Homo sapiens: one gene and its partner. The protein of the gene in region 1 interacts with the protein of each later gene in a pairwise test. Each region holds a gene or a part of one and is shown in the gene's direction. Other genes may lie near its edges. The genes, in order: PIP4P1 and RILPL1.

Evidence for each region.
Region 2: the proteins of PIP4P1 (region 1) and RILPL1 interact in binary tests that used the Homo sapiens proteins (3 or more experiments, as listed by UniProt).

The regions. Positions count from the first base shown.
Region 1 is NC_000014.9:20,458,538-20,462,796, reverse strand, and holds the start of PIP4P1 (type 1 phosphatidylinositol 4,5-bisphosphate 4-phosphatase), read left to right. Parts: upstream 1-1,362; 5' UTR 1,363-1,471; coding exon 1,472-1,613; coding exon of another isoform or gene 1,614-1,634; intron 1,635-1,951; coding exon 1,952-2,142; intron 2,143-2,498; coding exon 2,499-2,605; intron 2,606-3,063; coding exon 3,064-3,169; intron 3,170-3,356; coding exon 3,357-3,409; intron 3,410-3,500; coding exon 3,501-3,591; intron 3,592-4,094; coding exon 4,095-4,238; 3' UTR 4,239-4,259. UniProt on the Homo sapiens protein: Catalyzes the hydrolysis of phosphatidylinositol-4,5-bisphosphate (PtdIns-4,5-P2) to phosphatidylinositol-4-phosphate (PtdIns-4-P).
Region 2 is NC_000012.12:123,495,666-123,499,475, reverse strand, and holds part of RILPL1 (RILP-like protein 1), read left to right. Parts: coding exon 1-58; intron 59-710; coding exon 711-932; intron 933-3,810. UniProt on the Homo sapiens protein: Plays a role in the regulation of cell shape and polarity. Plays a role in cellular protein transport, including protein transport away from primary cilia.

The DNA.
Region 1 (4,259 bases):
ATATTTGGGGCTGGCTGTACTTTCTTTGATGCACTTCCTTTCTTAGTGGAGAGTCTGCTAGCCAAACTGATAATGGACCTCCTCGGGGTTTATTGTTTTTATCAATTCCTTGTTGCTTCCCATATTTAAAGCAGTCCCAGTTTGGGCTATGACTTGGGAAAAAATCCAGGTGTGGTTCAGGCGCCCATAAAGACCACACGAGACTTCAGGTAGGGGAGGAGGCACTGCCCCTTTGCTGGAAGCAAAGTTGAGACAGGCCTAAAGACTGTCCCATCTGTCAAATAAGGTGACGAAAATAACCTTGTATTTGATTAATCCAATCTACAAACTTGTGCGTATGTTAAAGGTTGGTGGTCATAAAACTGAGTAAAGGCACGGTGGCTTGTCCCTGTAGTCCCAGCTACTGGGAAGGCTTAGGCAGGAGATCAAACTCAGGAGTTTGAGTCCAGCATAGGCAAGACCCCATCTCTATTGAATTTTTTTTTTTTTTTTTTTAGTAAAACGATGAAATCTTCTAGTAGTGGAGACACTAATGAAAAGATAATTTAACAATTTGATCAGCAATGGGGAAAGACGGGGCTCTGTAAGGACAGCTTCCAGGAAAACCCAGTCTTGTGTCCTGTCCTGAAAGTGACTCTAGCGACAAAGGCTGGAGTGATAATCTTAACTTTTTAATCCATTTCCTTCTGGTACCTCATTACTCTGACTTTTTAAAGGTACTTCTTTGAGTAGAACAGCTAACTTTGTCTACTGTTCCCCACCGTCCATTTTCTCCCCGCTCAGAAGATCCCAAGCTTCCGCACTCCTTTATTGCACCCGCCCAGCCTCCTTTAAAATGCATAAGCCACGCCCCCCATGTTCTGGCGCTAAGTTCGGGCCAATGCAGTTGCGCCGCTAGGATCACAGGACGAAAGAAGTAAAGTCACCAGCCAATAGGAAACCAGCTACAACGCAAAGCCGGAGAAAAGTGTTTTAGTGGTGTCTTTGAACCAATGAGGAGCAGAGCAACAGGGACCGTGCAGCTTCCAGAAACACGTGACCAGTTGAGCAGACGCAGCCTAGCCCTACCTCCTGGTCTGGAGGTAGCGCGATGGGCGTCGCTCCCAATAGCTTGCAGAACCTCTAGTCACGTGCAGGTTTTGCAAGCCCAGCAGCATCTGGCAGGTCATGTGACAGTTGACGTTTGTGCGTCGCTCCCCAATGGAAAAGGAGAGCTGCCTTCACAGGACCAGGAATTGGTTTATCTACGCGAATAATAGCATGACCCGGGCGGGGATAGCCTATCACGTGCTGCTAGACGGAACGGGGCGGGGCAGGCCACTGGTTGCGGAGTGAGCTGGGCGCGCGGCGCGCAGGCGCCCTGGGGACCCGGTAGCGGCGGTGGCGGTGGCGGCGGTGGCGGTGGCTGCGGCGACGGCAGAGGCGAAGGGAGCCGGATCGCCGACCTGAGCGGGAGGCGGCGGTGGCGGCCATGGCGGCAGATGGAGAGCGTTCCCCGCTGCTGTCTGAGCCCATCGACGGTGGCGCGGGCGGCAACGGTTTAGTGGGGCCCGGCGGGAGTGGGGCTGGGCCCGGGGGAGGCCTGACCCCCTCCGCACCACCGTACGGAGCCGGTAAACATGCCCCGCCCCAGGGTAAGCCGGGGCGGGTCCGAGGTGCTCCCCGGGGTACTCTGAAAGCCGGGGAGGGGGCGGGACCGAGGGCGGAGGCGGGTCCCAGTCGCCAGGTGCGGGACTGCTGCACCTGTGACTGGGCGAGGCTTCCTTCCCTCCGTAATCGCGACCACAGCCTAGGGACGGAAGGGGGTTCTGAGCAACCTGATAGAAGTGCCAATTATGAGAAGCCCTCCGAGCTTGGTCAGAGGGTTGAAGATCAGAAGGACTTCCCTACCACCGTGGAGCATCAGTGGGGGTGTAAGTGATCCCAGCCCTTCTATTTGCTTCCTCTCCAGCATTTCCCCCGTTTCCCGAGGGGCATCCAGCCGTGTTGCCTGGGGAGGACCCACCCCCCTATTCACCCTTAACTAGCCCGGACAGTGGGAGTGCCCCTATGATCACCTGCCGAGTCTGCCAATCTCTCATCAACGTGGAAGGCAAGATGCATCAGCATGTAGTCAAATGTGGTGTCTGCAATGAAGCCACCGTGAGTTACACATATCTATGAAATGGGCCCTGTTTCCTGGATCCTCTTTCTGATGTCTTGGTTCTAGACCCTGACCTTCCGGCTATTAGCCAAGTGCTTTTGATGATACCCAGGTTTCAGTTCCAGGTGTCTCACACAGCCATTTCCCCAGAAGCCACTCACCAAAGCTAATGTTCACTTTCTCTCACTTTTACACCTAGCCTAGTTCCTATTTGCAAATCTCATGATATAGTCTTTCTTTTATTTCTCCTTCCTGGTTAGCACCTTATTTTTCTGATCTCATAAAGTGTTTTTGGAGGGAAGTGGAGGGGATTGGGATTAGAGGTTTGCTTGCTGATGACCCTATTATTCTCTAGCCAATCAAGAATGCACCCCCAGGGAAAAAATATGTTCGATGCCCCTGTAACTGTCTCCTTATCTGCAAAGTGACATCCCAACGGATTGCATGCCCTCGGCCCTACTGGTAAGAGGCATAAGGTGGGGAAGGGCCTAAGTGGGGAACTGGAAAGTCAAAAAAGGATGAGCGTATACAGAGAATGTAAAGGTGAGAGAGCCTAGTGTTTATTTAGGAGAAAAGGCTTTGAAGCATGTGCCTCAGGAATGTTATAGCTGTCTTTCTCGTTTCTCAATAAAAATATTGAGATGAAATGATGTCGTTTCGGAGAATAGAGAGCCTTGGGGACTGGGTGTGTTATCCTGAGGTCGGAGGGGAATTGGGGACCTGAAGTTTAAACAGTGCTCTTTCTTTCTCAAGGATTCTTGAGGGTATACAGTTGGGGGACAGAGTATCTTAAGTACAGAGAAGTCGAGTGACTTAATAGACAGGGAGTGGGGGATGTGGAACAGGGACTGTGAAGATTTTTAGGATTAAAAATTTTTCAAACACAAGTTTGAAAATACAAGTCTTTTTCTTTTGTATAGCAAAAGAATCATCAACCTGGGGCCTGTGCATCCCGGACCTCTGAGTCCAGAACCCCAACCCATGGGTGTCAGGGTTATCTGTGGACATTGCAAGAATACTTTTCTGGTGAGGAAGGGGTATTGGGAAGGGGAGGGGAAAGGAGACTAAGAGTCATTTCGAGTATATTTCTTAGAGTAATGGTAATGACCCCTGAAAGGTCTGTCCTATGGGAACATGTTCTGCATCCCCACCCCAAGGTTCTCATTGAGGGAGACCCTGCTTGTGCTATTATTTTTGTTTTCTTTCTCCATAGTGGACAGAGTTCACAGACCGCACTTTGGCACGTTGTCCTCACTGCAGGAAAGTGTAAGTGATTAGGGATTGAGCTGGTAATTGATGTATGGAGTAAAAACTACAAGGCCATAGAAAGCATCCATTTCTATTTGCCTCCCCACAGGTCATCTATTGGGCGCAGATACCCACGTAAGAGATGTATCTGCTGCTTCTTGCTTGGCTTGCTTTTGGCAGTCACTGCCACTGGCCTTGCCGTGAGTACCCTTGCCCCAACCTCTTTCATTCTGCAGCCTCATCTCCATAGGCTAAGATTTGGGAAACTGCTACCCTAAAAAAAAGTGGAAGAAACTTGGGGGACTAGTTTGTTTTGTTTTAAGATATGGATGAGCTAAAGTGCAAAGTGGCTGATCAAACAGACTTTATTACTACTACAAGAGTGAAAAACAGCCTTCCTTTCTCTGTAGGATGAGGATAGGACAGTGAAATTCTTAATTTAAGAGTTGCTATTTTTCAAACCTGGCTCAGTTGTCAGATATTAAGAAAAACTGAGATACAGTGTGGGATGGGATGAGTATGTTACGCCTAAGGGAAGGAAGCTGATCAGCTCTGCCTTTAAGAAGGTCCCTGAGGGTGGCTACATGTGGATAAGGAACAAGGACTGAAGCGTGAGTTATTACTGTTCTTAGAACTAATAGGAGGTAGTGGAGACCAACATTAACCCCATCTTTCTTTTCTTCTCCCTCCTTATCTTCATCAGTTTGGCACATGGAAGCATGCACGGCGATATGGAGGCATCTATGCAGCCTGGGCATTTGTCATCCTGTTGGCTGTGCTGTGTTTGGGCCGGGCTCTTTATTGGGCCTGTATGAAGGTCAGCCACCCTGTCCAGAACTTCTCCTGAGCCTGATGACCCACAGACTGT
Region 2 (3,810 bases), on another chromosome or scaffold:
CGACGAGATCCGCGCCAAGGACAGGGAGCTGGGCCTGAAAAATGAGGACGTTGAGGCTGTGAGTGACACACCCCTGACCTGCGTCCACCCTCCCAGCCAGTAGGTGCCAGCCAGAGACCAGACCCTCCACTCAGCAGGCCCCTTCTCTCCCTCACTCTCATTCTTGGGGCTCCGTGGGGTGTGGATCCTGCTCATGGCTTGGCGGGCCCAGCCTGGAAACTTCAAGTCTTCACTGGCAGAGCAGGAGGAAACGTGGCACTGCCCGGTGAGCAGGCTCCTCCCGCCTCCTGGGAAGGTCCCGAGGCCTGGGCAGACTTTGCTCTGACCCCAAGGCCTCCTCCAGCCCCACCACTTCATGCCTCTCTGTGAGCAGACTTAGCAGGGTCCAGCGTGCTCCAGGAACCCATACAGTGTCTCTGTGTAAATCAGAAAAAAATGCCCCTTTCTGAAGGCATGTTACTTCCATTTGTTGGGAAATTTTCATAATGTATTAATTCTAGCAAGACACCCTTCCATCTGCCATAAAATTATCATAGAAAATACACAAATTGCCCATCTCTAGCATCATCAGCTATAAGAATACGAACAACTTTCAAACAAAGATGTCTGCAATGTAAATGGCACACCTATGGATGGTTTGCCGTTGTGCAGTGTACAACCTGAGCTACCGCAGGTGGCAGCCCCGCACAATGGTCTCCCTTTTTCTACAGTTACAGCAGCAGCAGACACGGCTGATGAAGATCAACCATGACCTTCGGCACCGGGTCACGGTGGTGGAGGCCCAGGGGAAAGCCCTGATCGAACAGAAGGTGGAGCTGGAGGCAGACCTGCAGACCAAGGAGCAGGAGATGGGCAGCCTGCGAGCAGAGCTGGGGAAGTTGCGAGAGAGGCTGCAGGGGGAGCACAGCCAGAATGGGGAGGAGGAGCCTGAGGTGAGCAGGAAGCTGGGTGCAGAGGTGGTAGCAGAGGGTCAGTCTGGGGGTTGGCTTAAGGCAGGCAGGGTTGCCTTGTTTTCCCCATTATACTTCAGAAAATGGCCAACCTGGGCAACATAGCAAGACCCCAATTCTCTACAAACATTTTTTTTAATTAGCCACGCGTGGTGGTGCACACCTGTAGTACCAGCTGCCTGCCTGGGAGGCTTAGGCAGGAGGATCACTTGAGCCCAGGAGTTCAAGGCTGCAATGAGCCATGATTGCACAACTGCGCTGCAGCCTGGGTAACAGAGCCAGACCTGTCTAAAAAAAAAAGAGAGAGAGAGAGAGAGAAAAAACGAGAGGCTCAGAGAGAACAAGCTACTGGCCTGAGGACACACAGCTGAGGGGTTGGAACCCCAGACTCCCAGCATTCTCCCATCTCAGTGATGGTTATTAGGCACCTGCCATTTATTTATTCATTCATACCAATGATTGTTGACTGTGTAGCCGGCCCAGAGGATAAAATAGCGAGCAAAATACAGACATGATCCCTGTCCACATGGAGCTTACAGTTTAGTATGGGAGGCAGACATTAGTTAGTCCAGACCTTAATCATTAATCACACAGTACCATATGACCCAGCAATTCCACTCCTAGGCACATATCCAAAAGAATTGAGAGCAGGTGTTCAAACTTTTACATGAAGGCCAGGTGTGGTCACCTGCACTTGTAATCCCAGCCCTTTGAGAGGCTGAGGCAAGGGGATCAAGAAGATCACTTGAGGCCAGGAGCTCAAGACTGGCCTGGGCAACATAGCGAGGTCCTATCTCTACAAAAAATTCTTTAAAAATTAAAAACTTGCTTTTGGGCTGGGTATGGTGGCTCACACCTGTAATCCCAGCACTTTGGGAGGCTGAGGTGGGCAGATGACTTGAGGTCAGGAGTTCAGGATCAGCCTGGCCAACATGGTAAAACCCCGTCTCTACTAAAAAAAAATACAAAATTAGCTGGGTGTGGTGGTGGGCATCTGTTATCCCAGCTACTTGGGAGGCTGAGGCAGGAGAATTGCTTGAACCTCGGAGGCAGAGGTTGCAGTGAGCTGAGATTGCACCACCGCACTCCAGCCTGGGCAACAGAGTGAGTCAGACCCCATCTCAAAAAACAAAAAAAGAAAATCTTAGGTATGGTGGCATATGCCTGTAGTCCCAGTTACTTGGGAAGATGAGGCAGGAGGATCACTTGAGCCCAGGAGTTTGAGGATGCAGTGAGCCATGATTGAGCCATTGCTCTCCAGCCTGGGCAACAGAGTGAGACCCTATAGCAGCACTATTCACAGTCGCCAAAAGGTGGAAACAACCCACATGTCCATCAGCAGATGAATGGGTGAACAGTGGTCTCTCCATACAGGGGGATATGATTCAGCTCTAAAGAGGAATGCAGCCCTGGCCACGCGGCAGCACGGATGAGCTGCAAAAACATCACGCGGAGTGAAAGAAGCCAGGCCCAAAAGGCCAGTGTGTGACTCCATTTGCACGAAATGTCCCAGAACAGGCAAATCCATAGAGCCAGAAAGTAGACTGGTGTCCGAATGGGGCTGGGGGAGGGAGGAATGGGGAGTGACTGCCGATGGGCATGGAGTTCCCTTTGGGGACGATGGAAATGATCCGGAATTAGAGAGCGGTGATGGTCGCACAACACTGTGCATGTTACTGTCCGCGTGGCCAGAGCTGTCCATCACAGCTGCAGCTAACATCCAGGTAGGCCCAGGGCTACAAAGTGGGCACTAGCGGTGTCTGTTCCTTAAATGTGCCCCCAGACTGTGCCAGGAACACAGAGGGTGAGATCGTTCATCCTGGCAGAGGTGGGGAGGTGGGGTTTCAGGGAAGAGCTGTTCCTGAAGCCGGGCGTCAGTGTTAACAATGCTGAGACTTTGACAGATAGAAATGTGGACAATGGAGATGCTGTTTCAGAAAAGTATAGTGAACTTTAGGGACACACTCAGGCTTGTGTTTTCTCCCAGCAGATGTTTATGAGCTGTTGAAAGTTTGCAGACGCTGCACTAGTAACCTGAGTTACAGGTAGGGGAGGTAGGACAGACAAGCTCACAGTCAGGTGGGTTCAAGTCCCAGTAGTCATTAGGTATCCTGTGAATTTGGTAGTTACTTCCAGGTTTGCTGTAGGACAGGACAGGCATCTGGGATACAAATGAGGAAGGTCAGGGAGAGAAGTCTTAAAAGGGAGTAGTTGCCAGGCATGGTGGCTCACACCTGTAATCCCAGCACTTTGGGAGACCGAGGCAGGCAGATCACTTGAGGTCAGGAGTTCGAGACCAGCCTGGCCAATATGGTGAAGCCCCATCTCTACTAAAAATACAAAAATTAGCTGGGCGTGGTGGTGCACACCTGTAGTCCCAATTACTTTGGGGGGCTGGGACAGGAGAATTGCTTGAACCCGGGACGTGGAGGTTGTGGTGAACTGAGATCACGCCACTGCACTCCAGCCTGGGCGACAGGGGTGAGACTCTGTCTCAAAAAAAGAAAAAAGAAAAAAAAAGGAGTGGTTAAGGGCTGCTTTTGGCTAAAAATGACATAAGCCTAAGTTAAAATGGTTTAAGAGTTGGGAGGCCAAGGCAGGCCGATTTCCTGAGCTCAGGAGTTCAAGACCAGCCTGGCTAACGTGGCGAAACCCCGTCTCTACTAAAATACAAAAAATTAGCCAGGCATGGTGGTGTGCGCCTGTAGTCCCAGCTACTCGGGAGGCTGAGGCAGAAGAATTGCTTGAACCCAGGAGGCGGAGGTTGCCGTTAGCTGAGATCGCACCACTGCACTCCAGCCTGGGCAACGGAGCGAGACTCTGTCTCAAAAAAAAAAAAAAAAAAAAACTGGGGCCAGGT